Linked DNA regions of Homo sapiens. The protein of the gene in region 1 purifies or fractionates together with the protein of each later gene. This does not show direct contact. Each region holds a gene or a part of one and is shown in the gene's direction. Other genes may lie near its edges.

Region 1 (3,996 bases):
TACTACTGGGAACAAATCAACATCTTTCACTCCAACACTGCGTTTGGTGCCCCGTAACAATGACCTCCTATCAGCAGGAAGTAGCCAGAAAGATTATAATGCCCCATCCCCCCATGATTCTCATAAGAAATAAATATACAAGCATGATAGCAATCATGCATAATTTGACAGTGGGGATTGTGGCAGGCCAGGTCTCACTAACGGCTGAATAGGCCGGCCTCCACGACAACTGTTTCAGCACTGACCGGGTGGTGAAGTCAAATATTAAAAGCTGAGAGGGCCAGCGCCCTTCAACAGAGGCTGGAATGTAACAAAAGCCCACCAAGAGTTTTGCCCAGGCCTCTCCTGGGCCTTGAAGCATGACAAGATAACAAAGGAATTCTTAACAGGACCCGTTTAGGATTAAACAAGTTTTACTGGGGTCTAAAGGAACGCCCCAAACCTCCATGATTTAGCAGGAGAAAAGATAAGGGGAATCACCCCAGCACCTGGACCCCTCCAGATTAAGTAAATTTACTGAGGCTCCAGAGGAAGTTCTTCAGGACTCAGGCCTTAATTATAGATTAGAAGAAGTTCATCACTGTGTCTTTAGCTGAATGCACACTTACACGTAGACCTACAGCTTCGAAGATATATAAGCTCTGGAAAACTGCAATTTTGAGCTGGTCTAGTGCTATTTTCCCGGGCTTCTGCCTGTACCCGGTGACAGAAGCAAACTCTCTTATTTCCCAGCTCGTCTGCATCTCGTTACTGGGCTGAGAGAATAAGGAGCGAATAAGCGCCCGGCCGTCGGTTGAGTCTGGGGACGCTGTGACTCACCATTGGCTCCGGCCCCAGACGCTGTGCTGGGGAAGGAGCGGGAGGGGATGGGAGGGGAACAGGGACACCCTGTACTCCACAGACACAGCCACCATGGGTCCTCTTGCAGGCTGAGAGAGAGGCTGTCCCCTGCATTTGGGACAAGGTGCCTGCCTCCAGTGAGGGGACAGCAGGTTCCTTTGCCCATGGATCCAGGAAGCTCCCACAAGGGAGTGGGGTGATCTTCCCCAAGGTAGAGAGGGCAGCAGCCTCGGGGCCTTTGGCTGCATGCCCAGTGGGCACAGGATGTGTGTGGACGGGCCACAGAGTGGGCCGCCCTGCAGGGCTGGAAGCCGCAGGGCAGCAGGGTATAAAGGGGGTGGGCCGAGGGCTGAGGCGTCCACGGCAAAGATGGCTCTGCTTCTGCTGAGCCTGGGGCTGAGCCTCATCGCAGCCCAGGAGTTCGATCCCCACACCGTTATGCAGAGGAACTACAACGTGGCCAGGGTGTGTCTGCGTTGGGGTCTGTGGGGAAGGGGCCAGGCTTCAAGGCACCTGTCTTCCCCCAGCCTGGGGTCTCTGACCTGTGACCAGGGCAACTGGTCCAAGGGGAGCCCACCTCTCCTCCCCAAGCTGTGACAGCAGCCTGGGAGAGCAGGGGTTACTCCGGGAGGGTCGGGTGGGAGAGGCCTGGGAGAGTGACTGGGGCCCTGAGAGGTTAGAGGGGGCCCTGGGAGGGCAGAGGGGAAAGCTGGAGAGTGGAGTGGCGGCCAGCAGGGAGATGGGGGCCCTAAGAGGACAGAGGGGTTCCTAGAAGTATAGGGGAGACCTAGGGAAAAGAGGGGGACTCAGTGGGAAAGGGTGGAGCGGGGGACCTTGAGAGGACAGAGGGGGACCTGGAGGGGCAGAGGAGAGACCTGTGGGGCAGAGGGGGCCCTGGAAGGGCAGAGGGCATTCTGTGAGCAGAGGGGGGACCTTGGGATCAAAGGGGGGATCTGGGGACATAGGGGAGACCTGGGGGGCAGCGGGGGCCCTGGAAGGGCGGAGGGCATTCTGTGAGCAGAGGGGCGACCTTGGGGGTAAAGGGGGGATCTGGTGACGAGGGGAGACCTGGGGGCACTGGAAGGGCGGAGGGGTTCTGGTTGGGAGCCAGATGCTAAGGGGCCGGGCCCTGGGAGGGAAGACTGTGGGCGCTAAGCATCCCCAGGGCTGTCCCGCGGCCCCCCACCCACTGGAGCTCTTTGTCTTCAGGTTTCAGGGGTCTGGTATTCTATTTTCATGGCCTCAGATGACCTGAATCGGATTAAAGAAAATGGAGACCTGAGGGTCTTCGTCCGGAATATTGAACACTTGAAGAACGGCAGCCTAATATTTGATTTCGAATACATGTGCGTGTTGCCCATCTCAGCTGGCATCAGGAAGACCCATGCCCCTGCCACCCCAACGCATACTCTCACTCTTGCACACACACGCTCGCACACTCACTGACTTGCACTCTGGTGAGAGCCTGAGCCTGTGCGTGTGACCCTTGGGGGCAGGGTGAGGTGGGAGCAGGGACTTGGTCTGCCTGGCACTGTGCTCTTCCCTGAAACATAGAGATGAAATCGCCCCCTTCCAAGGCTGGGGTGAGGTTCGAGGAGATGAGGGTGTCCGGTGGGCTGCAGCAGGGCCCAGCCCAAGAACTTGGGGCTGTGGAATGAGGCCTGGGCATTGGGAGGGTGAGCCTGTGCCCTGGAGGAGGGGTGCTCTCTGCCATCGCACGTCCAGGGGGCTGGAGCTCCACTCCCGGCATCTTCCTGGCTGGCTTCCAGGGTGCAGGGGGAGTGTGTGGCTGTGGTCGTGGTCTGCGAGAAGACAGAGAAGAATGGGGAATACTCCATCAACTGTAAGTGGAAGCCAGGCTCCTCCTGGTCTCACAGTCGGGGGTCTCCTTTCTCCAGGGCCTGGGCCATATTCTGGTGAGCACTGACTCTGGGGATTTTAGTTAAGCCCCTGACAGCTTGACCCTGAACTGGAGGGACCCATCCTGGCACCTACCCAGGGGGGCTCCTGGCCCAGGGGAAGCAGGGAGGCAGGTGTGTCATGCTGAGCTCTGGGGGGTGAGCCCACTGAGGGGCCACCAGGGTCTGCAAGCCAATGACAAGGAGGGAGGGGGCTGTGCCGCTGCTGCCCGCCCCCTGTGCAGGGGTCTCCGCTGGGTGAGCACCGTGGGCTCCTCCCCTCCCGCCTCAAAAGGCCACTTGACCCCCCATCCTCACTTGCGGCCACACAGCACGTGTCACAGGACCCTGAGGGTGGCGGGGCCAGGCCACGCTGAGCCATGTCTCCACGCAGATGAGGGCCAGAACACAGTGGCCGTCTCGGAGACTGACTACAGGCTGTTCATCACCTTCCACCTCCAGAACTTCAGGAACGGGACCGAGACCCACACGCTGGCGCTCTATGGTACCTCCGCTGTCCCCCTCTGACCCCCTCGGGGACCCCACCTCCTCTGAAGTCCGGCCCAACCCTGGGCGGAGGAGGGTCTCGCAGTGGCCCTGGGGTTTGGAGAGGTGGTTCCCGTTGGCTATTCCTTCCCACAGACACACCGTTAGGGTGCTGGGTGCTTCAATCTGTCACCTCCCATCTCACTTGGCACAAAGCCCCTCTCTGGTCAGGGCGTGACCCCCTGCCCAGCCTCAGCACTTCCTGAGCACCCCCAGCAAGGCCCAGCTTCACACAGAACCAACTCTGTTCCCAGCACGGGTCCCATAGCTGGAACCCTCCTTCCTGAGCAGATTTGAAGAAACCTGCGAAAAGTACGGACTTGGCTCACAAAATATCATCGACTTGACCAACAAAGGTCAGCCCCACTGCTCCCGGACCAAGCGGGAGCCGGGACAGGGTGGGGATGGGAGGTGTGCCTGCGGGGTCCCTGTCCCTGCGCTGAGAGCCCCCTCTGTCCTTCCAGATCCCTGCTACTCCAAGCATTACAGGAGCCCGCCCAGGCCTCCCATGCGTGAGCTGCGACTCGGGACGGGCAGGGGGCTGGATGGGGAGAGCTTGGGGCCAACGTCAGAGGCTGCGGGGTCCCACCCCAGGAGGTGCCCATCCCTCCCCCTGGTCTGGGAACCGAACACAAGGTGCTTTGGTGAAAGATGCTGTGAAAAGCATCCTGGAGTCGGGGCAGTGATGGGGCCTTCCAGGGTGGTAAGGTCT
Region 2 (3,500 bases), on another chromosome or scaffold:
ATATTTGCTTTTCAGCTTGGGCAATGGTAGATGGTGGTTCAAATGTGAAAGCCCGCTCTTCCTACAATGAGAAGACCCCAAGGATCGTTGTGTCTCGTTCCCATTCAGGGATGGTCAAACAGGTCGCTCTTCAGACTTTTGGAAACCAGACTACAATTATCCCAGCTGGTGGTGCTGGTATGTTCCTCTTCCTGTGTGGTCCCTGGAGAATGTTCCTGGCATGGTCAAGGCTATGTTAGGAGACTAATTTGCTTGTCCATGCTTGGGAGGAAAGTGAGGAGGAGTGGTGTACTTTCAAGACAGGCTTGGTCTCCTGTTTGGTAACCTCGAGGGTGGGATTTTAGTCACTCTGCCCTTCTTATTAGAAAGAAGCAGTCTCACAACAGTGGTTTCTCTTTCTTGAATACACAAAAGCATATTCCCATTAGATCTACCACTAATTGCTTTTTATGCAGTCTGATTTCAAAATAATTGTCTTACTTAACTGTGGGAATATCAAGGAGAGGAAGAAAGATCAAGCACTTAAGATGCTTCATATGGCAGAAAGACGCCAGGAGTCATCATAAGTATTATTAGAAAGGCTAATCCCTGAGTCACTTTTAACACCCCTGAACTCTTTAACCTGCATACCTGGGATGAGCAAGAGAGGCTAGTGCGCACCCACCTTATCGTATATTCTCTACTATTGTATTATAGTCAACCTAGTTTTTTGGAAAAGAAACCGATAATAAAATTTGAAGCCTCATGAGCCATATATATACAGTCTCTGTTGCATACTATTATTTGATTTTCTTTAATGAACTTTTGAACATATTTTTTAAAGATTCTCATCTTAACCCTGTAAGAACAGGCCATGACCCGGATTTAGCTTGAGGGGCTGTTTGTCAACTCCTGTTATGAGTACTGTCTAACATGTCAGAAATGTTTTAATTCAGGTTAATAGCAAATTATGGTCAGAAAACAAATGTGTTGGAAAACCTTCTCAGCACACATAAAGGGAGAAGTAATACTTCTTTTTTGTTTTGTTTTGTTTTGTTTTTTCTTTTTTTGAGATAGGGTCTCATTCTGTCTCCCAGGCTGGAGTGCAGTGGTGTGATCTAGGCTCATCGCAACCTCCGCCTCCTGGGCTCAGGTGATTTTCGTGCCTCAGCCTCCCGAGTAGCTGGGACTACAGGCATGCACCACCATGCCTGGCTAATTTTTTATTTTTAGTAGAGACGGGGTTTTGCCACGTTGCCCAGGCTGGTCTTGAGCTCCTGAGCTCAGGCAGTCTGCTTGCTGTGGCCTCCCAAAGTGCTAGGATTACAGGCGTGAGCCACCACACCTGGTCAATACTTTTTAACTTTTATGCCTAATAATTTTAATTTTCTGTTCTATATATCTGCCTTCTTTCATATGGCTTCATTATTTTCTTAGAGGCTCTCTGTTAGGTTGGTTAGGAAAAGTAATGTCCAGAATACCCAGCAGGGATGAGATGACTAGGTTCTAGACCCAGTTTCTTCTGCATTTGTTTTATTACTTTAGTTTTTAAATTCTGCCTCATTACAAAAAGGCTTTAGAGTGGTAGTGTTACTGTTAGTTCTCTTTCACATCGGGCCTACTTAGATGTTTAGGTAAAACTTGTGTGTATAATATGTCATTCCATAGAAAATGGCACGTAATGAATGTGTCATTCCATAGAAAATAACCACAATGTAGATTTAAAATTTTTAAATTGTAGGTATATATTTGGTTACATTTGAGACTAGCTTAATAAGTTACTTTGCAGGCCGGGTGCAGTGGCTCACGCCTGTAATCCCAGCACTTTGGGAGGCCAAGGCAGGCAGATCACGAGGCCAGGAGTTCAAGACCAGCATGACCAACACGGAGAAACCCTGTCTCTACTAAAAAATACAAAAAAATTTAGCAGGGCATGGTGGCACGCACCTGTAATCCCAGCTACTCAGGAGGCTGGGGCAGGAGAATCGCTTGAACCCGAGAGGTGGAGGTTGCAGTGAGCCAAGATCGCGCTGTTGCACTCCAGCCTGAGTGACAGAGCGAGACTCTGTCTCAAAAAATAAATAAATAAATAAAAATAAACAATAAGTTACTTTGCAATGTATTTTTGTTCTGAGTTTAATGTTTATACAGTTACTTTAAAATTTTTTTAATTTGAAATAATTTTAAACTTAAGCAGTTGCAGAGACTGCAGCAAGCTCCTGCACACTCCATCCTGCTATTTTAACAGGATACTTAATCAAAAAAGTATGCTACTTTCTTAAAATTTTTTGAATAATAACCTAAATTCTTTGTTTATCTTTTAGGTTATAAAGTTTTAGCACTTTTGGATGTGCCTGATAAGAGTCAAGAAAAAGCTGATTTATACATCCATGTGACATACATCAAAAAGTGGGATATATGTGCTGGTAATGCCATCTTAAAAGCCCTAGGGGGGCATATGACTACCCTGAGTGGTGAAGAAATCAGTTACACTGGTTCAGACGGCATTGAAGGGGGACTCCTTGCTAGCATCAGAATGAACCACCAGGCCCTGGTCAGAAAACTCCCAGATCTAGAAAAGACAGGACATAAATGAGCATAACTGATTACAGGGTACAGTTCTTCACAGCTGAAATGGTTAGCCTGAGATGCTGGAAGCTTCAAAGGATTGGTGGAGACTATGCATGGTTAAGGCCATCCCGAACTTTTTAAAGTATTTATGAAGCATCAGAGACTTATTTTCCCTGTAATAGAATGCAAAATCAGGGAAAATGGGTTGCTTTGTGTCTCAAGTATTGTCTTTATTTTTGAGACTATTTTCATACAGTTGTCATACACAAGGCGCATATATATATTTGTGAATTAAAATCTGTAGCTGAGTCTACATTGTTATGAGTCACCATTTTCACACAACATCATGAATCTTCACTGTTAGTACTTTCATATAGAATTCGGTTGAAGGAAAGATTGATTTTTGTGTAGATGTTTAATATAACTTTACAACTATATCTCATTGAAAATAAAGTCATTGGGGATTTTTACCTCTAATTTGGATGGAAAGCACAAGAAGCCACACATTCATTAATATGCAACAAATGTTGTATTTATGTTACTGAATATTTCTATGGATTAAAATAGAAAAAGTTTAATTGATTTTTTCTTTTAAATTTTAATAACAGGTTCACCAGCTGGTAGAAAATAGAGACACATGATGATTTGCATTGTAATAATTTCTGTGTGTATGTGTGTGTGTTGTTTTGTTTTTATAAAGAAAAGTGTGTTTGTACCCATGAGTTCAGCATTTCTGCCATCTTGCTATTTTCATTTTCCCTGTGGAAGATGCATGGTTGCATCCTTTTCCTTCTGACCAACACTTAGTCTTTAACTTTGTAAGGTTCGGTTTAAGGTTTCAGGGTTAGCACTATAGTTTTGGTTCATTTTCTCATTAACGATAAAATATGCTGTAAGGCACTATAAGAATATAAATGATTCTATTACAATTGAAAGTTACTTGACATTAC
Region 3 (3,500 bases), on another chromosome or scaffold:
TTCCTCTGGTTCATCCCTTGAAGGCATCATGTGTGCCACTCTATTCCCCTCTGGACCAAAGACCATGGTCCTCTCTGTCATTATGCTGGAAGATTCTAAGGGCTGATGCCTTTTCTACCCTTTCTTCTGCATCATAGCCCAACAGGAGTAGGCAGCTCCCTAGATAATGGCAGCAGAGGTGCCTGTATACCCAGCAGTTCCTCCTCTTCTTGTTGTGGAGCCTCCCACTTGAGGGTTAGCAGTGTCTCTCTTCCTTGGATCCACCTGGGAAGAGCTGACATGTTGATGTGGCTAAGCACTGTAGCCACTCCCTGGGCTGCATTCCATGAGGGTCAGTGCCCTTGACCGAGTCATGTCTCCAGTGCTCTGTCCAGAGGAGGAGCTTCACAACACTGCCTGGGAGCTCAAGGATCAGTTTGGTTTTCTGTTATCAGTTAAGTGGGGAGTAGCCACTCCGGGGTCCCTTGTCCCTGGGAGGGACAGGGTGAGGATGAGCTGAGGAAGCCAGGTACAGGCAGGAGTGAAATGGAGAGATTAAGAACGAGACAGGTTCATGTCTCACCTGGAGCTGAGTTCTGCAGAAATGGCCTTGGAGGAGGAGACAGGAGCTTTCACCCCTGCCGGGTGCTCAGCTGGAGGCAGGAAAGCCGATTCCGTAGCTCAGTGGGAGGTCTCCTCTGATTACACTGTTTGACTTTCTGTCTTGCTTTCTTCTTGTCTTTCTTTTTCCTAACAATCAGTAGTAGAATTATAGCGTTCTCAGCTCCCACACAGTGGCACACCCCTGAGAAGGTTGAGTCACGACCTGTCATCCGCTGATCCTAGTTAATGCATGGTCCCCGCACAGCCAGGCTTACCTTCTGAGCAGCCTCCATCCTGAGCCAGTCTGCAGACCCCTCACCTCCCAGTCCCTCCAGCATCAGAGGCCAGAAAGTACTCTTTCTATTAAAATGAAAACAATGTACAAATGTCAAGGTCTGTCATTTACACAAAGTGCTTAATTTCTTTTTAATGCATCAAATTTTATTATTTCTGACATCTTACTGTGTTCATGCAGCTGTAAGAAAAGCACAGAGCAGGCTGGGCGCGGTGGCTCACGCCTGTAATCCCAGCACTTTGGGAGGCCGAGGTGGGTGGATCACGAGGTCAGGAGATCGAGACCATCCTGGCTAACACAGTGAAACCCCATCTCTATTGAAAAAGTACAAAAAAAATTAGCCGGGCGTGGTGGCGGGTGCCTGTAGTCCCAGCTACGTGGGAGGCTGAAGCAGGAGAATGGCATGAACCCAGGAGGCGGAGCTTGCGGTAAGCAGAGATGGCGCCACTGCACTCCAGCCTGGGAGACAGAGCAAGACTCTATCTCAAAACAAAAAAAAAAGAAAGAAAAGGACAGAGCAGTTTCTATCCCAAAAAATTCCCATCATGTCATATGGGGACAATTAGAATGTAATTATGTCCCATACTTATGCTTCTGTGAATTTTTGTGCCCAGCTCAAGGCCTCAGACTGCCTTCTGTCCAGAGAAGATGATGATGGTGATCACAGCATGGTGCCACAACCTACACGCTGCCTGCAGCTAGGGCCTCTCACCAGATGGTTGGGTTTTCAACCCAGCTCTGTGACCATGGCTGTGTATATGGCCTTGGGCAGTCACCTGCCCTCTTGGTGCCTCAATTGTCTAATCCATAGAATGGAGATAATGTCAGTTCCTACTTTGTGGGGTAGTTATGAGGCTGTAAGGCACTGGTCAGTACCTGGCACACCAGTTGCCCGTATTATTTATGCAGTTGTTTTATTTTTGTGTCTGGGGTACCTTCCCACTACCCCAACCCACTTCTGGTGGATTATGCAAAATATTTCTTTTCTTTGAGCTGGTGCTGCTGCTGCTTTTCTCAGGTGTCTGGGAATGGGACTGAGCTGCCTTACAGAGGCGGCGCAGGGGAGCATCCCGAGGGCCTCTGTGCCATAAGAATGGTTTCTCTTGATCTCTCCCCACAGGGTGTGGCCACTGTAAGAAAATGAAGCCGGAGTTTGAGAAGGCAGCAGAAGCCCTCCATGGAGAAGCGGATGTAAGCTTCCTTTCCTTCCCCCTCACCGTTCTCTTTGAAAGAATCACTGACAGGTGGAATCATTATGACTTTCCCCTGCAAGCCCTGCTGCAGCTCCCGTGGTCCGTGGAGGCCAGCAGTACCTCTGTGTGCCCAAGTAGAACATCTTAGACAGATGGGATCCTAGAGGGGGCAGAAAGACTACTGGCCCATGTTCCCGTGCCCATCCAGGTGACCTCTGCCTGCTCCCTCTTTTCTCTGGGACCCTGGCTAACAGGAACAGGTGCCAATCTACTCAACGTGGCTGGTGGGGCAGATTCAAAAGCCTCATCTCAGCTCATAAATGAGAAATGATGGCCGTGCCAATGTTCAGTTGTTCCCTGGGATATGGGAGCCCACTGGGCTAGCCACCCCAGTTAAATTCCAGCAGGTCCAGGATGGGTTGTGGGGGCAGCGTCTGGGCTCCTGTGTTCCACCAGCACCGCATCTGAGGCTGTAATGCATGGTTGGCCTTTCCCCCATCCCAGAGCTCTGGTGTCCTTGCAGCTGTCGATGCCACTGTCAACAAGGCCCTGGCAGAAAGATTCCACATCTCAGAGTTTCCTACGTTGAAGTATTTTAAGAATGGAGAGAAATACGCAGTGCCTGTGCTCAGGACAAAGAAGAAGTTTCTCGAGTGGATGCAAAAGTAAGTGTTACGATCTCAGTAGCACATCCTAACTGCCAGCTGGCGGCCCCTGGAGACCACCTTGAGGAGGTGAAGTAAACTTTATGGTCAATGTCCTGGGCTCATGCCCGTAGGAGTCAAGACGGATCTGACTTCCTCAACCCTAAAACCACCGTTCATATGCTGATCACGTGTCTTGATCAGGTCACTGCTGGCAGTCCTTCTGGACGCAGCTTCATCGACGCACTAAACCGTGTGTTGCTTTTTCTCTGTCTCAGCCTCCTTAGGCCCAGATCTTATTGTCTGCATTTTATTCCACTCCCTTTGAATAAATGAAGGAGACACAGCTCTTCATAGCCAGAGCTAGACTCATTTCGTCCAGGTTTGCTAGTGGTTGGCTGGGCCTCCAGTAATGTCCACAGGGCAGGCTATGGTGGTTTGCAACTGAGGATAAAGATTTTGAAGAGCCCCCTCAGCCTATGTATTAGTTTGCTAGTGTTGCCATAACCAAGTAACAGACCAGGTGGCTCAACAATATAATATAACAATATAACAGAAGTTTATTTTCTTACAATTTTGTTTTGTTTTGTTTTGTTTTGAGACAGTCTCACTTAGTCACCCAGGCTGGAGGCATGATCTCGGCTCACTGCAACCTCCACCTCCCAGGTTCAAGCGATTCTCCTGCCTCAGCCTCCCAGGTAGCTGGGATTACAGGCACATGCCACCATGCCTGGCTAATTTTTTGTATTTTTAGTAGAGACGGGGTTTCACCATGTTGCCCAGGCT
Region 4 (3,500 bases), on another chromosome or scaffold:
TATTTACTTTGAAGGGTGGTTAAATGACGTATTACACATGAAAGCTCTTGGGACATAGGAATGCAATAAATGTTTTCACCCTCAAAGAATGAAGATTTGCCGTTAATGAGAATATTCAAAAGAACATGAGAGTCTCTGGCCGGGTGCGGTGGCTCACACCTGTAATCCCAGCACTTTGGGAGGCTGAGGTGGGTGGATCACCTGAGGTCGGGAGTTCAAGACCAGCCTGACCAACATGGAGAAACCCCGTCTCTACTAAAAATGCAAAATTAGCCGGGCGTGGTGGCGCATGCCTGTAATCCCAGCTACTCGGGAGGCTGAGGCAGGAGAATCACTTGAACTCGGGAGGCGGAGGTTGCAATGAGCCGAGATCATTGTGCCATTGCACTCCAGCCTGGGTGATAGAGCGAGAGATTCTGTCTCAAAAAAAAAAAAAAAGGCTCTGAAAGGAAGTTGTACCTTTTTCGAAATAGGTGGATTCTCTTTTTCACATACTTGTGGATTCATACTCTGACCTGCTCAGCCTCCCCCTGTCTTTCTTCATTCATTTTCTGTCCTTTCCTAAGTGAAGTTTTGCTGCAGAGGCTGTCTGCCAGTCTCTTGTAGTAAGCCTCTTTTCAGGAGAGCTAATCTGAACTCTCTTACAATGCTAGTCCCTTAGTCGCTATTCCTAGGGATTTTTTTCTGGGGGCTCCAGATGGTGCTTGGATCACGCTCTGTAGCACAGCCATCTCTAACTCCTGGATTTGGTGTCAATTTGGAGACCCATCCTGTGGAGCTAATCTTCTCTCTTTCTGAGCAAGGATGAATACTTTATCCTTTTCTGAGTCGGCCTTAAACTGCAAACCTTAGTCTTCTACAGCAGAGAGTCTTGTATTTTAATTATACGTAGACTAAAGACGGAATAGCATGCCCTTTTCTTTTCTTCCTTTACTTTCACCAAGGATTTCACTGCTGAGTAGGGGAGTAGGAGAATAGCCTGTTGCCATTCAGAGTGAGGCCTTGGGTAACCCCTGATTCCTAGCATAAGCAATAACTGAGTTCATCTTTGGGACAAAAACCTTGTAAAAGATTCGGGCTGCTCAGACACATGTGGAGAACCTCAAGCTAGGAATTTTCCTAGCTTGTGAGGAGTTTACACCTGGCATTCTTACTTTTGCAAATTTGTACCCAGAATCCAGTAGCAACAAAACTATATTCAGCCCAGACTTGTAGTTCCTTCAGGTTCCACCAGGCAGCTGTAAGACATGGCTGTGATTATGCTGGCTGGCCATGTTTGCCTTCATCCTCCTAATACTGCCCTTGGCTTTGGTATTGAGAAGGAAGTGGCATAATCAATTCATGAGTAACATTCTCTGCCAAAGTGGAAATCAGGGGCAGAGAGTTGTGAGCATAGGACTAGACAAATGGAAAGAGCCAGCCTTGCCTCAGGAATGCTGCTAAAGTGCTGTGAATCCGTGACAACCACTGTGTTTCTTGGTGTCACCTCATTTGTGAAATGGGAATGCCTTCATTGATCTCTCTCTTGAGAAGAGTGGACCACCATGCCAGTTTTCCCAGGACAGAGGGATATCCGTATGTGGGACTTTTAGTGCCAAAAGCAGGAAAGTCCGGGGCAAACCAGGACAAGTTAGTTACCCTACCCATGACCATTATACAAGTTAATGAACACTGTGCCCTTAGGGTTCATCTAAGACTCAACCCTTTGGGTTCATCTAATTATTTTTCAACCTTTTGTTCATTATCATATTTTGAGACTTTTTTTCCCTTAATTGTCTACTCCCCAGTGGAATGTTTTTTTGAGAGGGAGTCTCACTCTGTCGCCCAGGCTGGAGTGCAGTGGTGTGATCTCTGCTCACTGTGGCCTCTGCCTCCTGGGTTCAAGTGATTCTTGTGCTTCAGCCTCCTGAGTAACTGGGATTATAGGCGCCCACCACCATGCCCAACTAATTTTTGTGTTATTTAGTAGTAGTTTTTGTGTTTTGCCATGTTGGCCAGGCTGGTCTTGAACTCCTGGCCTTAAGTGATCTGCCCACCTCAGTCTCCCAAAGTGCTGGGATTACAGGCATGAGCCATCGTGCCCAGCTACCCCCAATGGAATTTTAATACCACAGATGTACTGTGTATCTGTTTTTGTATTGTGGCCCTTTGGATGGCCACAAACCATTGTAATATCTAACTTTTTTTCCCCCAAGAATCAATTTTCACCCCTTCTGGGCTGTTACTGCACTCACTGAGAATGCATGGTCTTATCTGATATTCTTTCTTTAATGTAGTCATCAAGGCCAGTTTTTTATCCAGAAGAAACAGCTAGTACCACAAGCTTTTTCGTTTCCTTTCCTGTTTTTTTTTTTTTTTTTTTTTTTTTTTTGAGACTGAGTTTCGCTCTTGTTGCCCAGGCTGGAGTGCAATGGCGTGATCTTGGCTCACTGCAACCTCTGCCTCCTGGGTTCAAGTGATTCTCCTGCCTCAGCCTCCTGAGTAGCTGGTACTACAGGCATGTGCCACCACATCTGGCTAATTTTTTTTTTTTTTGGTAGAGACAGTCTCACTGTGTTGCTCAGGCTGGTCTTGAACTTCTGGGCTCAAGCATTTCTCCTGCCTCGGTCTCCCAAAGTACTGGGATTATTAAGTGTGAACCACCACACCCAGCCAAGTTTATTCTTTATTGTTTTAATTTTCTTCCAGTCTTTGGATTTTGAGGTGGTCCATTTATCATCTGCTTCTCTGGTGCCTCTTGGACCTTCCATCTTCACAGCTGGGGCTGCTGTGTTGGCCCAGGTGTCCCCAGACTGGACATCGGAACCTTTGGGAAGAGTCTGATGTTTGGCCCTTGTCACATTTCACATTTCACATCTACAGAGAAATGGGGAAGGGTATGTTTCTGAGGTCTGCTCATAGGCTATGTTGTGACTGAGGAAGTTCTTGATCATCCCTTTTGGTTACCACTTATCATCACTGGCAGAAAAACATCAAAGTGGTCAGTGAACTCATCTCCACATCTGGCTACTTCCATCTCTGCAAGTAGTTTGCTTCTTCAGTCTTGTGATGGGAAAGAGATCTAGAAACTGGAAGAATAATCTGAGATACATCCTAAAGTTCTGGTGAGGAAAGCTAATGCCAATGGACTTTTTTTTTTTTTTTTGAGATGGGGTCTTGCTATGTTGCCCAGGCTAGTCTTGAACTCCTGGGATCAAGCAATCCTTCCACCTCAACCTCCTGAGTAGCTGGGATTACATGCATGTACCACCATGCCTCACTCGCCAGTGGATTTTTTTTTTTTTTTTTTTTTTTGAGACAGCATCTTGCTCTGTTGCCCAGGCTGGAGTGCAGTGGCACAATCTCGGCTCACTGCAACCTCTGCCTCCCAGGTTCAAGTGATTCTTCTGCCTCAGCCTTCCGAGTAGCTGGGACTACAGGCGCCTGCCACCACGCCTGGCTAATTTTTGTATTTTTAGTAGAGATGGGATTTCACCATATTGGCCAGGCTGGTCTCAAAC
Region 5 (3,500 bases), on another chromosome or scaffold:
TTAGTAGAGATGGGGTTTTACCATTTTGGCCAGGCTGGTTTCGAACTCCTGACCTCAGGCAATCTGTCTGCCTTGGCCTCTCAAAGTGCTGGTGAATACAGGTGTGAGCCCCCACGCCTGGCCAAGACCCTGTCTCTTTGAAAAAAAAAAAAAAAAAAAGAATTTTACCAGTCTTTGATAATTTGGAAAAACCCAGAAAGTGACAGTTTTGCACTTAGTTTTTGTGATTACTAGAAGGTTTCCAATGTTCATTTTCTTTTTTAATTGCTCTGTCACCTAGGCTGGAGTGCAGTGGTGTGATCATGACTCACTGCAGTCTCAACCTCCTGGGCTCAGTGATTGTCCCAGCTCAGCATCCTGAGTATCTGGTACTACCGGTGCGCACTACCAGGCCTGGCTAATTAAAAATTTATTTATTGTTTGTAGAGATGGGTCTCCCTATGTTGCCCAGGCTGGTCTCAAACTATTGGGCTCAAGTGATCCTCCTGCCTTGGCCTCCTAAAGTTCTGGGATTGTAGGTGTGAGACACTGCTCCCAGTCATCAAATGTACATTTTCTAGAAAAAAGGTAGTATATTACAAAGATGTAGTGAATGCTTTTACATACCACAACATACAAATCTTCCAGAAGGATCTACTGGTGATGTGTGTAGAATATTGTTTTATTCCTGTGAATGCATAAAACATATGAATGAACCAAAAATGAAATAGAGATAGTAAAACATAGTGTTAAGAGCCTGGAATTCTAAGACAGCTTGCCTAGGTTTGGATCCTGATTTCTACTCTCAATTGTGTGACCTTGGTAAACTTATTTACCTCTCTGGGTCTTAATGTTCTTATTTCCTTTTTTTTTTTTGAGACAGAGTCTCGCACTGTCGCCCCAGCTGGTGTGCAGTGGTGTAATCTTGGCTCTCTGCAACTTGTGCCTCCAGGGTTCAAGCGATTCTCCTGCCTCAGCCTAGTGAGTAGCTAGGATTACAGGCGTCTGCCACCATGCCTAGCTAATTTTTTTGTATTTTTAGTAGAGACGGGGTTTCACTGTGTTGGCCAGGCTGTTCTTGAACTCCTGACCTTGCGATCGCCTGCCTCGGCCTCCCAAAGTGCTGGGATTACAGGCGTGAGCCACTGCGCCTGGCCTTAATGTTCTTATTTATAAAAAAAAAAATTGAAAAAGGATAATATGGCCTGGTGTGGAGGCTCACACCTGTAATCTCAGCACTTTGGAAGTCCGAGGCAGGAAGATTGCTTGAGCCTAGGAGTTCAGGACCAGCCTGGGCAACATAGAGTGAGACCCCATCTTGACAAAAAATAAACAAAATTGGGAGTCGCTCAGCCTACCTGATTTACCAAACCACTCCCTTGCCAAAAAAAAAAACAAAAAACTAAACCAAAAAAAAAAAAAGCCAGGTGTGGTAGCATATGCCTATAGTCCCACCTACTCAGGAGGCTGAGGTAGGAGGATTGCTTGAGCCTGGGAGGTCGAGATTGCAGTGAGCCATGATTGTACCAATGCATGCCAGCCTGGGTAACAGAGTGAGGCCTTGTCTCAAAAAAAAAAAAAAAAGTTAAAAAAAAAAAAAGTACCTGAACTCAGTTGTGAGGATCAAGTGAGTTAATTTACAGTGCTTAGAACACTGTCTTGCACATAGCAATCACTATATACATTTAGGTGTGATTATGACAATGATTGTTGCAGATTTTATTTCAAAGCACCACGTCAGTATTGCATTTTTAAAAGTTTGCCAGTCTTAAGAATTGGTTTTTGCCATGTAAATGGACTTTATCAGCTACTTAGTTCCCATTTGCTAGGCCAAATATATTTCTTGCACTTGTTCAATAATACAATACAAAGGTCAAGGCTGTATATGTGTGTATTACAAGTATTCTTTTTTCTGGTACCTTACAGTGTATCACATTTAAATAGCATATATAGATAGCAGTGTTAGCACTTCTTGATGTGATAAGATGTATAGCCTGAATTTTTGCACAATTAAATTTGTTTTAGAAAAGTAAATAATCCAGTGTGTAAATCTGTCTTGTCAAGTAGGTAGATTTGTGGAATTCCATAAACATTTTATTGCTAAATCAGGGAACAAAGAGCCTTAAGTTATTTAAACATTTTTGGTACGTGGGTGGGATGGAGTGGAACAGCATTAGTGTTTCCTGTTTGGTATTTAATTAATGGCCTTAACTTTTTTCTTGCCCTACTCCCAAACCATGAAACATAACTCATTTTGTGATAGGGTTCAATTAGAGATTAGGGTTCCATATGTTAAAATTTTGCTTTTTAAAACACCTGAAGTCTGTTTGCTAATTTTGATAAATGTGTTTCATATATGTATTCATTTTTTATTGAGTATGGGTTTAAGGTGAGTGAGGGAGACTTTATTTTCAGAATATTCATTGTGTAGGTTTCCTAAACTGTGGCAGCTGAGGCAAGAAAGTTGTCATAATCATAATATGAAAGTGAATGAACCTACTGCTTTTAGTAAAGTTAGTCACAAATCAAATACTCGCTCACGTTACACTAGTTTTCAGCCCGTCTGGGGATATTAACTTCTTTATTAGTTAGGTTTTCCCTCATTTTTGGGTGTTTTACCACACTTTGCAGATGTAAAGTGAGTGTAAAATGAAATAGTAATTGTTTCAGAGTCTTTAAATGTGATGAAAGAGAACAGCTTGAACAGTATATAAAACTGTAGACACACAAGAATAGGAAAGAATGAAACCAGTTAAAAATCCAACTGACAGTTTGTCAGTTTCTTACAGAACTCAACACTTATAATTCAGCAATCACACTCTTTGGTATTTACCCAAATGAATTGAAAATTTATGTCCACACAAAAACCTGCACACAGATGTTTATAGCAGTTTTATTCATAACTGCCAAAACTTGGAAGCAACCAAGATGTTCTTCAGTAGGTAAATGGATAAATAAACTGCGGTACATCCAGACAATGGGATATTATATTATTTAGTGCTAAGAAGAAATGAGCTATCAAGCCATGAAAAGACATGGAGGAATCTTAAATGCATATTATTAACTGAAGGAAAGGCTGTATGATTCCAACTATATGGCATTCTTGAAGGCACAACTATGGAGACAGTAAAAAGATCAGGAGTTGGATGAATTGGGGTAGCACAGAGGACTTTAAAAAATAGTCATTTTTTTAGAGCAGTTTTTAGGTTCACACCAAAATTGAGCTAAAGATAAGAGATATCCTGTATACCTCCTACCTCCACCCATGCATAGCCTCCCGCATTGTCAACATCCCCACAGAGCCACGGAGCCATACGTTTGTTAAAATTGAACCTACATTGACGCTTCATCACCCAAAGTCCTGTAGTTTATATCAGGGTTTACTCTTGGTCTTGTACTTTATGGTTTGGACAAATGTATAATGACACGCATCAACTCTTATGGAATTGTACACGTAAAATTCACTGCCTTTAGGGCAGTGAAACTTGCGTATGATACCTAATGGTAGGTACATGTTTACA
Region 6 (3,500 bases), on another chromosome or scaffold:
AGGGTTTCACCGTGTTAGCCAGGATGGTCTCGATCTCCTGACTTTGTGATCCGCCTGCTTCGGCCTCCCAAAGTGCTGAGATTACAGGCATGAGCCACCATGCCTGCCCTCCTTGGGCTTTTTATTATCTCCTTGGGTACATAGGATTCTTGTCTTCAGGCTTACCAAAAAAAGAAACCTAATAATTATTGGATTCTACCCATATACCACTTAAACATAAGATTCATATGCCTTACAGTGGTCTGTAAAGATTTAGATTACCTGGCCCATGCCTGTCCTTTTCATCTCATCTTTATTATCTGCCTGTCTCTCACTATACTCCAGTGACACCAGTCTACTTTCTGTTTTTTCAACATGATAGTTTTGTTTTCCTATTAAGCTTTCTCAATTGCTTGTTTCCCTGTCTGGAACTCTCTTATCTCAAATCTTTCTCCAGATCTTCACGTGGCGGACTCTTCATTGTCTAGGAAACCAGATAATATACTGATTAACAGTACTGGCTAGATGGTAGAAAAAAAACAAAAAACAAAACAAACAGCAACAACAAAAAGTACTGGCTAGATGTTCTTAACTTAGATTTTTGCATATTTTTTGTTAAGCTTTTTATTTTGAGACAATTATAGAGTCACATGCAGTTTTAAGAAGTAACAGAGAGAGATCCCTTACCCAGTTTGCCCCAGTGGTACCATCTTCAAAACTCTAGTACATCATAACCACCGTATTTGTGTTGATTCAGTCAAGACACAGAACGTTTCCATCACCACAAAGATCCTTCATGTTACTCTTTTATAGCTGCCCCACTTCCCTCCCATCTTCACCCCCACCTTAACCCTTGGTAACCACTCATCTGATCTCCATTTTTATAATTGTGTCATTTCAAGATTGTTATATAAATCAGTGGTCCCCAGTCTTTTTGGCACCAGGGACCGGTTTTGTGGATGACAATTTTTCCACAGATGGAGATGGGGTGGTTTGGGGATGAAGCTGTTCCACCTCAGATCATCAGGCATTAGATTCTCAAAAAGAGCATGCAACCTAGATCCCTCACATGTGCAGTTCACAATTTGATTCTCCAGCTCCTGTGAGAACCTCATGCCACTGATGTGACAGGAGGCGGAGCTCAGGTGGTAATGCTTGCTTGCTCCCTGCTCACCTCCTGTTGTGTGGCCCGGTTCCTAACAGGCCCTGGACTGGTACCAGCGCATGACCTAGGGGTTGGGGACCCCTGATATAAAAGAAATCATACAGGCCAGGTGCAGTGATTCACACCTGTAATCCCAGCATTTTGGGAGGCCGAGGTGGGCAGATCACGAGGTCAGGAGTTCGAGTCCAGCTTGACCAACATGGTGGAACCCCGTCTCTACTAAAAAAATACAAAAATTAGCCTGGCGTGGTAGCACACGCCTGTAATCCCAGCTACTCAGGAGGCCGAGGCAGGAGAATCGCTTGAAACCCGGGAGGCAGAGGTTGCAGTGAGCTGAGATCATGCCATTGCACTCCAGCCTGGGTGACAGAGCAAGACTCTGTCTCGGAAAAAAAAAAAAAAAATCATACAATATGTAATCTTTTGGGATTGGCTTTTTTTACTCACATATCCTCTGGAGATTCATCCAAGTCACTGCATGGATCAGTAGTTCATTTCTTTTTCTTGGTGAGTAGTATTCCATGGTACGTACCAAACTCTTTTTAACCATTTATCTGTTGTAGGACATCTGGGTTATTGATATTTTATTTAGAATACTAATTTACTTTATGAATAGATAACATATTCACAAGGTTTTGAAAAGATGTAAGAAGTCATGAAAGCTCCTCTCCCCCGTATTTCCCATCTTTCCCACCGAAACAGGCAAATGCTGTAATTATTTACTTGGGTATCCTCCAGAGACCCCTCTCTGCCCCACAAAAGTTGAAAGGTCAATGAACACTCACGTACTAGATACTTAAATCTTGGCTTTGCTTCTCAGCTTTTCTGCTTCAGTTTCCTTATCTGTAAAAGGAGAATAATAGTAACTTCCTCATATGCTTCTTCAATCCCCATAATCGTATTAATTCCGTGAATGCTTATTTAGCAACTACTATGTGCCAGGCATTGTTCTAGGTACAGGGAATGTGGTAGAGAACAAAACAGTCCATATCCCAATAAAGCTTCTATTTTGGGAGTGAGAGAGACAGTAAATAAATATATTTAATACATTACAATGAGTGATGCTATGTGGAAAAGCAGAATGGGGAATGAGGGTGCTATTTTCTGTAGGGTGACTTTAGCAGATATTTGAAGGAGGTAAGGAGGGAGGGAACAAAGCTGATGTCTGGAAGGAAGAGTGCTCCAGGTGGAGGGAATAGCTAGTACCGAGGATCTGAGGTCGGAATTTGCTTGCCATGTTCAGGAATCGGCAGTGAAGCCAGAGTGGGCTAGGAGGTGTGTTGTAGGTGATGGGGGCACTTTGCCTTTCACTTTTAGTGAGATCAGAAAGCACTGGTTTGGGGCAAAGGAATGACATGATATGGCTTAAGTTGCATTTATTTATTTTCATGTTTGGTTTTAAAAAATTGAATAAGTAATGTTTGCACATGGTTCAAAAATGACAATCATATGTAAAAAGGACTGTGTTCAGTCTGGTTCCCACAGCTGTCCTCAACCACCAAGATCCTGTACATTAAGCATGCTTTTTAAAATATTTTACCCCTTTATTAGTTTTGGGGCAGTCATCCAGAGTTTCTTTATATAAATGCAAGCAAATAGGAGTATACATTAAAAATATTTTTCCTCCTTTTTTTTTTTCCCTATTTCAGACAGGGTCTTGCTCTGTTGCCCAGACTTGAGAGCTATGGCATGATTGCAGCCTAAAACTCCCAGGCTCCAGTGACCTCCTGCCTCAGTCTCCTGAGTAGCTGGGACTACAGGAGTACATCACCATGCTTGCCTAATTTTTATTTTTATTTTTTTGCAAAGACAAGGTCTTGCTCTGTTGCCCAGGCTGGTCTCCCAACTCCTGGCTTCAAGTGATCCTCCTGCCTCGGCCTCCCAAAGTGCTGGGATTATGAGTGTGAGCCACCGTGTGCCTAGCCTTTTTTCCCTTTCTCACACCAGGTGGCATACTATCCTGTACCTTCTGTTTTTCATGTAACATATCTTGGAGTTGTTTCCATATCAGTACCCAGATTTTTTTTTTTTTTAATTGTAGAGACAGGTGTTGTTATGTTGTTCAGGCTAGTCTTGAACTCCTGGTCTCAAACAGTCCTCCTTCCTCAGCCTCCCACACTGTTGGGATTACAGGTGTGAGCCACCACACCCATCCACCCACCCCTGTTTTTTTTTCTTGGTAACTAATGTATAATATTCATCCTGTGGCTATAGATGTATCATCCTTGTTTTTTTTGAGATGGAGTCTTGCTATTGCCCACGCTAGAGTGCAGTGGCATGATCTCAGCCCACAGCAACCTCCGCCTCCCAGGTTCAAGCGATTTTCCTGCCTCAGCCTCCCGAGTAGCTGGGATTA
Region 7 (3,500 bases), about 67 Mb from region 1:
TGTTAGCAGGCATGAAAACAACATTAATCTCCTTGTACATCTCCATCACAGCTCTTGGGTGATCAGGTGTGTTGTCAATGAGCAATAATATTTTGAAGGAATCTTTTTTTTTCTAAGCAGTAGATCTCAATGGTGGGCTTAAAATAAACCATGCTGTAAACAGATGTGCTGTCATCTAGGCTTTATTATTTATAGAAAACAGGCAGAGGAGATTTAGCATAATTCTTAATGGCCCTAGAATTTTCAGGATGGTAAATGATTATTGGCTTCAACTTGAAGTCACCAGCTGCTTTAGCCTCTAACAAGAGAGTCAGCCTGTCCTTTGAATCTTTGAAGCCAGGCATTGACTTCTCTATAGCTATGAAAGTCCTAAATGGCATCTTCTTCCAAAAGGAGGCCATTTCATCTCCATTAAAAATCTGTTGCTGGCCGGGCTCGGTGGCTCATGCCTGTAATCTCAGCACTTTGGGAGGCCGAGATGGGCAGATCACGAGTTCAGGAGTTTAAGACCAGCCTGGCCAACATAGTGAAACCCCATCTCGACTAAAAATACCAAAAATTAGCCTGGCTTGGTGGTGGGAGCCTGTAATCCCAGTTACTTGGGAGGCTGAGGCAGGAGAATGGCTTGAACCCGGGAGGCGGAGGTGGCAGTGAGCTGAGATTGCACATTGCACTCCAGCCTGGGTGACAGAGCGAGACTCCATCTCAAAATAAATAAATAAATAAATAAAAAATAAGTCTGTTGCTTAGTGTAGCTACTTTCATGAATGATGTTAGCTACATCTTCTAGGTAGTTTACTACAGCTTCTATATCAGCATTTGCTGCTTTCCCTTGCACTTTTATGTTATGGAGATGGCTTCTTTCTTTAAATCTTGTGAACCAACCTCTGCTACCTTCCAACTTTTCTTCTCTAGCTTCCTCACCTCTCTCAGCCTTCATAGAACTGAAGAGAGTTAGGGTTGCTCTGAATTAGGCTTTGGCTTAAGGGAACATTGTGGCTTGTTTGATCATCTATCCAGACCACTTCATATCAGCAATAAGGCTGTTTTATTATCATTTGTGTGTTTACTGGAGTAGCACTTTTAATTTCCTTCAAGAACTTTTCCTTTGCATTCACAACTTAGCTAACTGGCTCAAGAGACCTAGCTTTTGGCGTATCTTGGCTTTCAACATAACTTTCTCACTAAGCATAATCATTTCTAGCTCTTGATTTAAAGTGAGAAACAGGTGACTGTTCCTTTCACTTGAACACTTAGAGGCCATTGTAGGATATTAATTGGCCTAGTTTCATGTTGATCATATTCTTTATGTTGTCATGGTTCTGTCATAATTCTTTTAGTTCTATGTTTTAATAGTTTTGGTGCTCATTACCAGTACTGTTGCTTCTCCATTCCCGAGTTAGTCCATCTCCTGATTGAATTTCATTGTCAGGCAGTCTTTTCAAGTTACAGGTACTGCATGCATTCTTTGGGTTCTTATACACTTCATTGATTCAAAATATTTGTCTTTTGTTTTTATATTACTTGAAGGATTACTTGGCTCGGTATAAAATTTATCAGTCACACTTTTTTCCCCCTCAACTTTGTAAATGTTGTTCCATAATCTCCTAGTGTTTGATTGGCTGGATTTCTTTGTCCAATGTTTTCTCCTTTTATTAGGAAGAATTTGTGAGTATTATAGTCTCTGAGTTTCAATGCTTGCTGTTTTCTTTAATGCTTGAGAATGTCTGTCTATTGCTTTCGTTCCTGAAAAATAACTTGTTTGGGAACACTTTCATTAGAACTTTGTGGTCACTGTTTTATTATTTTGGGACATCTAGTGTTACTGTAGAAAAGTCTGATTTTTCTCCCTCCCTCCTTGAAGGCACTTTTTTTTTTTTAATCTAAAATGCCTGAGAGTTTTCTTCTTTATTTTTGAAATTCAGTAATATAAACAAGGTATATCTAAGTGTCACTTATAATCATTTTTCCCTAAATTATAATATGCCCTTAGTTCTTCTAAGAACATTTTCCTTGTTTGTTACCATGAATACTTTTTTTTGGTCAAATTATTAGATCCTCTACTTCATGACACCAGTTTTTTTAATACTGAATTTTCTTTTGTTCTTCGTATGTATTCTAATTGCTTTGATTTGTCTTTTACCTTTGCATTTACTGTGATCATCTGAAGCCTTTCTTTTTGTCAATAATTCTGTTTTCTCCAGTATCTGTCCTGTTTTTGATATTTTAAATGAATTAATTGGTTAAGTCATTGTGTTATATAGGCTCTAAGTTTCTTTAGCACTACAAACTGCATTTTCATCTTATTCTGCTTCTTGCTTTTGAGCTTGTTTATTATAAGGTTGTATTGTTTTCAAGTTCTTCATTATGATGAAGTTGTTGAGAATTTTCTTTAGTTTTTATTGGGTTATGTATCCTTCCAGAATGGGTTCTTTGCCACTTGTATGCCCTATTCATTTCTTCATTTTGTGTTCTTTCTTGCTTTTTATTCCCTGTATGTGTGTATTTCTTTTTGTCAGGCTGTAATACATATGCATACAAGTTTCTTCTTGATATGGGAGAACTTCTATGTGGTGCTGATGGGAAATATTTTTAATACTCCACTCTCCTTACCCAAGTTTGTTTTTCTCCTGAGCCCTAGTTTGAAAGCTGTATATTGTTGGAGTGGAGGGAAAGAGAAGGGAAAAGTGGTGATTCAGAGAGCCAAATGGGGCAATGTGGCTTTTAGGCTCTGCTCTCTTGAAGTACCAAGTATTTCACTCTTGGGTCTGCCCAACTGCTTATGAATAAAATTCCTTTGCCTTGTATGGGGACATCATTCGACCTCAGACCTCTCATTTCTCTTTGTTCTGAGCCCTAGAATGTGACCTGACCTTCTCCTTCCCAAAGCATGGAGATGGTTAAAACTCACTCTTGAAATTTTTTTGTTGACTTTTCCCTCTGTTGCTTATTCATTCCTCGGCTCTACTTTTTGCCATTTTGGAGTGTATTTCTGGTAAGTGTTTAGGATTTTGTAAACTATTTCCCTACAACCTCTTATTGGAGGTAGGGGTAGAGTTGGGAATGACCATCAATCACATATAACTTTGTTTCTTATTTTGACTATCAGTCTTCAAAATTTATGGCAGGCCCTTTTATATTTGGTTGCTGCTAATAAAATGTTGGCCTTTTTGTTTTATTTTTTATTTTTATTTTTTGTTTTATTAGATTTTGAAGAAGGGAGATTCTAAAATGTAGTTCAGGTTTTCTCAGTGTCAGCACAAATAACATTTTGGGTTGGATAATTATTTGTTGTGAGGGGGTTGCCCTGTGCAGAGTAGGATATTTAACAACATCCCTGGCTTCTACCCACTAGATGCCAGTAGCATTCCCCTAGTTAAGACAACCAAAAACATCTTCAGACATTGCCAAATATTCCCTGGGGAGAAAAGCACCCTGGTTTGAGAGCCACTAATCAATTTTGTTCATTCATCTTTACTCCTCCTAAATACCTACATCCA

Evidence for each region.
Region 2: the proteins of LCN9 (region 1) and BPNT2 purify together in Homo sapiens (affinity purification with mass spectrometry; one large-scale study listed by BioGRID and IntAct). This does not show direct contact.
Region 3: the proteins of LCN9 (region 1) and PDIA5 purify together in Homo sapiens (affinity purification with mass spectrometry; one large-scale study listed by BioGRID and IntAct). This does not show direct contact.
Region 4: the proteins of LCN9 (region 1) and SIL1 purify together in Homo sapiens (affinity purification with mass spectrometry; one large-scale study listed by BioGRID and IntAct). This does not show direct contact.
Region 5: the proteins of LCN9 (region 1) and NUDT9 purify together in Homo sapiens (affinity purification with mass spectrometry; one large-scale study listed by BioGRID and IntAct). This does not show direct contact.
Region 6: the proteins of LCN9 (region 1) and NKIRAS1 purify together in Homo sapiens (affinity purification with mass spectrometry; one large-scale study listed by BioGRID and IntAct). This does not show direct contact.
Region 7: the proteins of LCN9 (region 1) and ZNG1C purify together in Homo sapiens (affinity purification with mass spectrometry; one large-scale study listed by BioGRID and IntAct). This does not show direct contact.

Annotation. Positions count from the first base shown.
Region 1 is NC_000009.12:135,662,113-135,666,108, forward strand, and holds the start of LCN9 (epididymal-specific lipocalin-9 precursor), read left to right. Parts: upstream 1-1,196; 5' UTR 1,197-1,209; coding exon 1,210-1,305; intron 1,306-2,049; coding exon 2,050-2,186; intron 2,187-2,609; coding exon 2,610-2,683; intron 2,684-3,132; coding exon 3,133-3,243; intron 3,244-3,538; exon of another isoform or gene 3,539-3,575; coding exon 3,576-3,631; 3' UTR 3,632-3,640; intron 3,641-3,748; 3' UTR 3,749-3,996.
Region 2 is NC_000008.11:56,962,868-56,966,367, reverse strand, and holds part of BPNT2 (Golgi-resident adenosine 3',5'-bisphosphate 3'-phosphatase), read left to right. Parts: intron 1-15; coding exon 16-177; intron 178-2,303; coding exon 2,304-2,575; 3' UTR 2,576-3,500. UniProt on the Homo sapiens protein: Exhibits 3'-nucleotidase activity toward adenosine 3',5'-bisphosphate (PAP), namely hydrolyzes adenosine 3',5'-bisphosphate into adenosine 5'-monophosphate (AMP) and a phosphate.
Region 3 is NC_000003.12:123,143,525-123,147,024, forward strand, and holds part of PDIA5 (protein disulfide-isomerase A5 precursor), read left to right. Parts: intron 1-1,997; coding exon 1,998-2,068; intron 2,069-2,574; coding exon 2,575-2,735; intron 2,736-3,500.
Region 4 is NC_000005.10:139,191,869-139,195,368, reverse strand, and holds part of SIL1 (nucleotide exchange factor SIL1 precursor), read left to right. Parts: intron 1-3,500.
Region 5 is NC_000004.12:87,425,573-87,429,072, forward strand, and holds part of NUDT9 (ADP-ribose pyrophosphatase, mitochondrial isoform a precursor), read left to right. Parts: intron 1-3,500.
Region 6 is NC_000003.12:23,896,491-23,899,990, reverse strand, and holds part of NKIRAS1 (NF-kappa-B inhibitor-interacting Ras-like protein 1), read left to right. Parts: intron 1-3,500. UniProt on the Homo sapiens protein: Atypical Ras-like protein that acts as a potent regulator of NF-kappa-B activity by preventing the degradation of NF-kappa-B inhibitor beta (NFKBIB) by most signals, explaining why NFKBIB is more resistant to degradation.
Region 7 is NC_000009.12:68,251,983-68,255,482, forward strand, and holds part of ZNG1C (zinc-regulated GTPase metalloprotein activator 1C), read left to right. Parts: intron 1-3,500.